2 linked regions of the Homo sapiens genome follow. The protein of the gene in region 1 interacts with the protein of each later gene in a pairwise test. Each region holds a gene or a part of one and is shown on either strand. Other genes may lie near its edges.

The links. The genes of interacting proteins can lie anywhere in the genome.
Region 2: the proteins of PPP1R3B (region 1) and PLCE1 interact in a two-hybrid assay, tested with the Homo sapiens proteins (one large-scale study listed by BioGRID).

Annotation. Positions count from the first base shown.
Region 1 is NC_000008.11:9,144,159-9,147,658, forward strand, and holds part of PPP1R3B (protein phosphatase 1 regulatory subunit 3B), read right to left. Parts: intron 1,353-3,500; exon of another isoform or gene 1,093-1,352; intron 1-1,092. UniProt on the Homo sapiens protein: Acts as a glycogen-targeting subunit for phosphatase PP1. Facilitates interaction of the PP1 with enzymes of the glycogen metabolism and regulates its activity.
Region 2 is NC_000010.11:93,992,744-93,996,730, forward strand, and holds the start of PLCE1 (1-phosphatidylinositol 4,5-bisphosphate phosphodiesterase epsilon-1), read left to right. Parts: upstream 1-1,187; 5' UTR 1,188-1,515; exon of another isoform or gene 1,516-2,997; intron 2,998-3,987. UniProt on the Homo sapiens protein: The production of the second messenger molecules diacylglycerol (DAG) and inositol 1,4,5-trisphosphate (IP3) is mediated by activated phosphatidylinositol-specific phospholipase C enzymes.

The DNA.
Region 1 (3,500 bases):
AAATTGAAAAGATAATACAAGTTTTTCTTTTTTTTTTTTTTTTGTTTGAGACTGGGTCTTACTCTGTCACCTAGGCTGGAGTGAAGTGGTATGAACATGGCTTATGGCAGCCTCCACCTCCTGGGCTCAAGCGGTCCTCCCACCTCAGCCTCCCGAGTAGCTAGGACCACAGGCATGAGCCACCATGTCCGGCTAATTTTTAAAAAATATTTTTTTGTAGAGACGAGGTCTCACTATGTTGCTCAGACCAGTCTTGAATTCCTGGACTCAAGCAATCCTCCCACCTCAGCCTCCCAAAATGCTGGGATTTATAGGTATGAGCCACTGTGCCCAGCCAATGCAAACATTTTCATTAGTTAAAATTGGTACAAACTTTCTAATTTTTTAATCATTTTTTATCCTAATATCACATAGAGACATTTATCCTAGGTAAAGAATTAAAAACACACAGAGATTAAGGTACTAAAATGTTCAATGCCACATTATAGGGGGAAAAAGATGACAAAATAACCTAGGTGACCATTAACAGGTACCTGGTTAAATTAAATGTACCACATCCATGTGATGTACTTTTATTTTTACTGTTGTTATTTTTTCCTTTTTTGAGACAGAGTTTCACTCGTGTCACCCAGGCTGGAGTGCAATGGCACAATCTCGGTTCACTGCAACCTCCACCTCCCAGGTTCAAGTGATTCTCCTGCCTTAGCCTTTCGAGTAGCTGGGATTACAGGAGTCTGCCACCACGCCCAGCTAATTTTTGTATTTTTAGTAGAGACAGGGTTTCACCATGTTGGCCAAGCTGGTCTCAAACTCCTGACCTCAGGTGATCCACCCGCCTCGGCCTCCCAAAGTGCTGGGATTGCAGGCGGGGAGCCATCATGGCCAGCCCATGTGATGTAATTTTATATCATCATTAAAGCCATTATTTTAAAAAAGATTCAAATGAAATGAAAAAAAAATATTATATATTTATATTTATGTCTACATATGTATATATATATAGAGAGAGAGAAGATAAAATTGTACATAGAAACTAGACTTGTGGGGAAAAATGCTGTTGTCACTTCAACGACATGAGTTTGAACTTTGTAGGTCCACGTATGCTCAGATTCTCTTCTGCCTCTGCCGCCCTGAGACAGCAAGACCAACCCCTTCTCCTCCTCTTCCTCCTCCTCAGCCTACTCAACGTGAAGAGGATGAGAATGAAGACCTTTATGATGACCCGCATCCACTTAATGAATAGTAAATATATTTTCTCTTTCCTATGATTTTCTTAACATTTTCTTTCCTTTAGTTTACTTTACTATAAGAATACGGTATATGTTACAAATAAAATACAAAATATGTGTTAATCGACTGTTGATGTTATTGGTAAGACTCTGGTCAACAGTAAGCTGTTAGAAGTGAAGGTTTTGGGGAGTCAAAAGTTATATGTGGATTTTTGACTGTGTGGGGGCTAGGCTCCCCTAGACTCCATGTTGTCCAAGGATCAACTGTATTATGTAAATGCAGAGAAAAAAGACTAGAGATATATATTTAAAATCAGAATACCTAGGTGACAAGATTTCAGGAATTTCTGGTATCCTGGTTTGTATTATATCTTCTAAAATAATATTGCTTCTATCATCAGAACAAAATGAACCTAAAAAAAATCCTCAAATATTTTATGATATGCCAAAAACCCATCCCATCACTACTGCCTCACTAAAGCTGAGCACTTTTTTTTTATAAGACAGGATCTTGCTGTGTTGCCCAGGCTGGAGTGCAGTGGTGCAATCATAGCTCACTGGAACCTCAAACTCCTGGGCCCAAGCAATCCTCCCGCCTCAGCCTCCAAAGTAGCTGGAACTACAGGTGTGCACCTCCATGCCCAGCTAATTTTTCAATTTTTATAGAGGCAGGGTTTCACCATGTTGCCCAGGTTGGTCTCAAACTCCTGAGCTCAAGCAATCCTCCCGCTTCAGCCTCCCAAAATCTGAGCACTTTTTATCATTCTAATTACCATGGCAAATTTATATTTTGATTTGACAGTTTCAATGGACTAAATTAAGGAAATGAGTGCCGAAACTAGGATTAAAATCTCAAGTCTGAGAATCACAGAACACAGGATCTGGATGAGTCCCCAAACCTATCTCCCCTCAACCTATCTTACCCCTCCTTATGGCACAGGTGTAGGTGTGTGATGACGTGTTGGGGAGCTCACTCTCAAGCAGCCATGGCCACCCCTGAGAAGTGACAGGCAACATGCCAAGTGTCTTCTGTAAAGAGCTGGGACCACTGGTTCAGTTCTATAAATAACCTCTCATTTTCACCTTCTGATTGTGATTAACCAAACATGTAAAGAAAAAAGGTGAACGGACGAACACATATCAGATTTGACCCCATTTTTCCAAAAGTACAGAACTTCCCTGGGATGCAAGAAACCCTTACAGATGGCCAGTCAGAGAAATACACATATTCGGAAACAAATAAAACAATAACTTATGGCCAGAATGCAGGTGCTTAAACATTCATTTTAAAGGATATCTGTCTCACTGTTTCCCCTTTAAGAAAATCAATCTAGTGAAAATTTTAAGGGCAAATTTGCTTTCAATGATCTGTTCTTATAGCCACGTAACTGTTCTGGAAAGGAAAGTTCTGACTGAATTAGGCAAGGTAGGTTTGCAGAGGTTCCACGGATTGACTAACAGGTTCAATGTAAAAAAAAAATCCTATACTTACAAAATATCTAAATTTTAGTTACTCTTGTCCTTTGCAAAACTGTGCTGGAATTATACCCTCAGCTCTAACTGTAACACAGGTAGTGTTTTTGTTTTGTCTTATTTTTAATTTTTTTTTTTTCGAGATGGAGTCTTGCTCTGTTGCCCAGGCTGGAGTGCCGTGGCGCAATCTCAGCTCACTGCAACCTCTGCCATCCGGGTTCAAGCGATTCTCCTGCCTCAGCCTCCCAAGTAGCTGGGACTACTCGTGCCACCACCCCTGGGATTACAGGCGTGCACCACCACCCCCAGCTAATTTTTGTATTTTTAGTAGAGACGGGGTTTCACCATGTCAGGCTGGTCTCGAACTCCTGACCTCATGATCTGCTCCCCTCAGCCTCCCACAGTGCTGGGATTATAGGCATGAGCCACCGTGCCCAGCCTTGTTTTTAAACAAGTACGAAAACCAAACAAGAGGCTATATCTGGCATCCCAGTGCCCCCCACTCTACCCATCCTGAAAAATCTGGGTGTGAACTGAGGGAGGAAGGGTTCCTCTTCACAGCTTCCTCCTCAACTGAGTCAGCACAGGTTATCTGCAAGTTCTCTTTGCACTTCCAAGAAGCCTGCAAACCAGCCTCCTACGTGCTTTTTCTGCATGTTAGGAAAAGCCTTGGAAACTCTCAAGATATTGTGGAAACAGCCAAAGCAAAAGGATCAATCAAAGAATCTACACACAGCCCACTAGAGCCAATGTCCCAAGTTCTAATCCCGCAGGCTGAAGAGACTTAGCTGAAGACCT
Region 2 (3,987 bases), on another chromosome or scaffold:
GTGTTCTGGAGCCTCCAAGAAGGAGAGATCACTTTTAAGAGGGACCCGAAAGAAAGGGTCAAACATGAGCAGGAGGAAAGTGTGTGGGAGGAGATGCTCCAGGTAGAAGGCTCAGCTTAAGTTCAGGTACAGAGCTAGAGTGGGAGAGACATTCTGTTGGGTGATCCTTATTAGCCAGGGCATGCTGGGTTACACAGCCATGGAGAGTTAGTTTGGAGGGCAATAGGGAGCCAGTGAAGTTTTCTGCATAGATTAAAGTTGTAAAAAAGGAAGAATAATACAGCGGTGGTTTGAAGGATTGATTTGGTCCAAGGGAGAGGACAGTGGGAGGCGATATGGGCCACAGGAATGGGTCCTGATCGGATGTAGGAGAAGAGGTCAGGCCTAGGGAACGGTCTTCCATTAGAACAGGTAGAGGGAGGAGGCACAGGTTTAGGCGAAAGGGAGGAGGATGATGATTTGATTTTTTTTTCCAGGTCCTTGGCTCTCCTAAGACTCATAAAAGCCGCTCCAGCGGCTAAGGAAGTTCTGTGCAAAGCCTGTAGTTTCTAGTTGTGAAGATCTTCAGGTTTGCTTGAGCAATGAAAGAGTACTGGATTTGGAGTCCGCAGTCCTGGATGGCCACCATTACCAGCAAAAGGAGTATTTCCGGAGCCTGGCACAACGCTGGGCACATTGATGGGGCTCAATGAATATGTATTAAATGAACGAGTGACAGAACAGATTCGAGACTTGGTGCTGCCATCTACTACAGAGACCTTGATCGTGTCCTTTATCTGCCGTGAACCTCAGTTTCCATATCTGTCAACCAGGGGTGGTTCCCTGGGGTAGTGTGAGAGTAAATTCCCGCCGCCTGAGGTGTGCAGAGTTCCCGCCCTTCCCGGAGCCGGGCGCCCCAGGAGCGCTCTCTCTGGCTCCCGCCAGAAAGGATGGCTCCTAGGGGTCAGGGCCAGGGGTCTGGGAAGGGGTCGCGCCGCCAGCAGCCAGCTCCGGGGGAGGCGGCCGGGTCCTCGCTCCGCGCCCGCCTTCCCCGCGCGGCAGGAGCCGGGGGCGGGCCCGGCACAGGCCGCTCCCCCGCCCGGCCGCCCGCGGTGGCGCTAGCGGCCTCTCACCCGGGGCGGGCGAGTTCTGGGAAAGCCCGGCCCAGGGCGGGGGCCCCGCTGCCGCCCGCGCAGCCGCCGCTGTCCGGGCAGCGCGCACATCTCGGCGGGAGCGGACTGTGAACGGCGCGGGTCCACACGGTAACGCTGGGCAACGTGGGCAACGCGGCGGGCGGCGGGCTCGCGCGGCGGGAGGGGCAGCGGCGGCGCGCCCGGGCTCTACCTCCCGGGCTCTGCCTCCCGGGCTCTGCCTCTCGGGCACTTGCCTGGCTCCTGCGCGTTCCTGGGCATCGGCTCTGCAGCTGACACACAGTAGCGGGGACACCCGACGCCGCTAGCGACAGGCGCGCGGACGGCTGGTCCCAGAGGGACGCTGCGCTTGGGGACGCCGGCGAGACTCGCCAGGAGCCAAGAGGTGAGGAAGCGACTCTGTAGCTCGGTTCCTGAGGACTGGAGAAAGGGAAGGATGGGCTGGTTCTCTCCCAAGGCAGTCGACCCGCCTAAGGGAGCAGCCCGACTCCGCGTACCTGGCGGAAAAGTGTCCTCGCGCTCCCGGGGGACCCGAGGCGGGCGGTCCTCCAGGGCATGCAGGCCGCCCTCGCAGGGGCTAAAGGACACCCTGCCAGTGCCTTCACTCCAGACGCCTGCCTCAGGTCGCCCCTTCGTGTTGTGAATACGGTGTGGAGGTGGCCAGTGCAAAGAAAAACGTAAGCTCTTTTTGTGGCGGTACTTAGCAGCGGTATTTCAAGGAAAGTGCTCAAGAGATTGTTCCTGGAGAGATTTGTGTACATCAAGTCCTAGAAAATACAATATTGGACCAGGTCCCGCTCTAACTGATAACTAGAATAGCTAGCTTTGCCTTCAAGTCCTTTAATGCTACAGTAATAAATACACTAGAGCAAGAAGTCTTCTGTCGTGGCGAATGTTAGGTGCACAGCGTAAATTTGTGGAAGCTTTCGCCCCTCGCTCTGTATTTAAGCCATCAGACACTGAGTTCAGCCGACTTAACCAATTATTCAGTGTAAGACTCATTTAGTGATTAATCAGTGTCATTTTAAATAGTGAGTTCCCTGAATACCTGTTAAGTAGGATTCACGTCTTCGAAAAGTTTTATTTGCACGAAGGTCATAATTTCAGTTGCATTATGCAAAATTTGCCCGTAGGTCTTTTAGATCTCTGCAGGATTGGTATGTTTTCATGTTTCTTATACCCCCCGTAGAGGTAGGGCAGGGCCGCTGCCACAGAATGGGCACTACTGAGGCCAAGAATGCTTGACCCCACTAGGGAGAATTTTTGAGAGCCTGACTTGGGAGGTGGAAGCAGGTGACCCCATAGGTGCTTGTACAGGTGCCCAGTTGTCATTGAGGAGAGAGGTGGACTATCTCTAGGTTATTGTATGCATCGATGTCTTCATAAATACTTTTCTGAAGAATGTCTGATGGTGTTGTCATCTAGACCATCTGATGGCACATCTTCCCCCACATCCACCACTCTAAAGTCTAACCATCCTTCAAACTGTGTTTTGCTGGTGGTGTGAGGCTTTTCCTGAAACAGCCAACCTCCCCCTGCTCTGATTTCTGCAGCATTTTTTCTCCAGGGCCCTTTCTGCTCTCTACCTTCTGGGAGTTATTTATGTAGATGTCTCATTTTCCCTACTGAAGGCATTTGCTGTGGCTTTCATGGCAAAATGCTTGCACCTAGAAGACTCTAGAGATAATTGTGGGCCAGTATTAAATCTTAAGACTTTGGTTTTACAACATAAATATCTACTTTGGAGAAGGAGATAATATAATTGAAAGGAGCTAGAGGAATGTATAATGTTTACCATTAACACTATCCTTTATTTACAGCCCCATGGGGGAAATTCCCTTTATACCCAGGAGCCATGTCTTACCAGGTAAGAAGCCAGATTGAACTGGAGGGACATTCTTCCAGTCCTCTTAGTAACATAAACTCCTGGGATGTGGTCCAAGTTTGACCTGTCATTAAAAATTCCATACTCCAGTGGGTTAGAAGCTAGATTCCAATGAAGGCGGTTGGTTTTGTTTTTCTATTTACAACCATTCTTAGTCACATTCTTCTCTGGGCTTTTGTTGTATACTTTAAAAAAACTGTTTGATGTGCAATTTGTTACCTGTAACTTTCTAAATGAATAAAAGAAGATTGAAAAAATACTGTGCATGGTGGAAGAGTTTTCTAAAGTAGACAGCAGGGGACGTTTCCCATGCCTGGGCAAGAGGAGGGATTTGCACAGAGTGAGGCTTGCTGCACGTGTGTGTGTGTGTGTGTGCGCGCGCGTGTGTGTTCCACACACCTGGCTGACAGGCGCCTATATAGGACAGTTGCTTTAGTCTTAATGCCTTCTCTCTCTGCCGGAACTACTTCTGCGGTGGAAGAACAATAAAACAGAGCTTCTGGGTTCAGAAGGAGAAGCAGAGGAAAAGCCAAAAACAGTAGAAGCAGCTAAGAGTGTGAATTTGTTTGCTGAAGTTGCTTTCCTCCCAACGTTCAGTTGAGATCTGTGGCATTGAGCAAGTAGGGGTTTGGTTGAGGCGAGGGAAGACAGGTGATTAGGAAACATGGTGCTTCTGGAAGAGGGGTGGAAGGTTCTGATAGGGTTTTAGGGAAGCATGTGATTTAGTTATGTAAGGCCCAAAGAGGAGAGTTGGAGATGGAGGAGTAGGGAATGGAGAAAGAGAGGAAGACGATATCAAAGATGCATTTTGTTATAGGCCAACCATGTGGCCTACAAAGAAGGGCAGAACTCTCTCTAGCATCATGTGTTCCTCTCTGCTCCCTGGATGCAGAATGCAGGGTTTTTACCGAGGCTATAATTCATCTGTGTTATGGCTTAAATAGATTTTCGTGGGCCAGATTGGGAACCAAG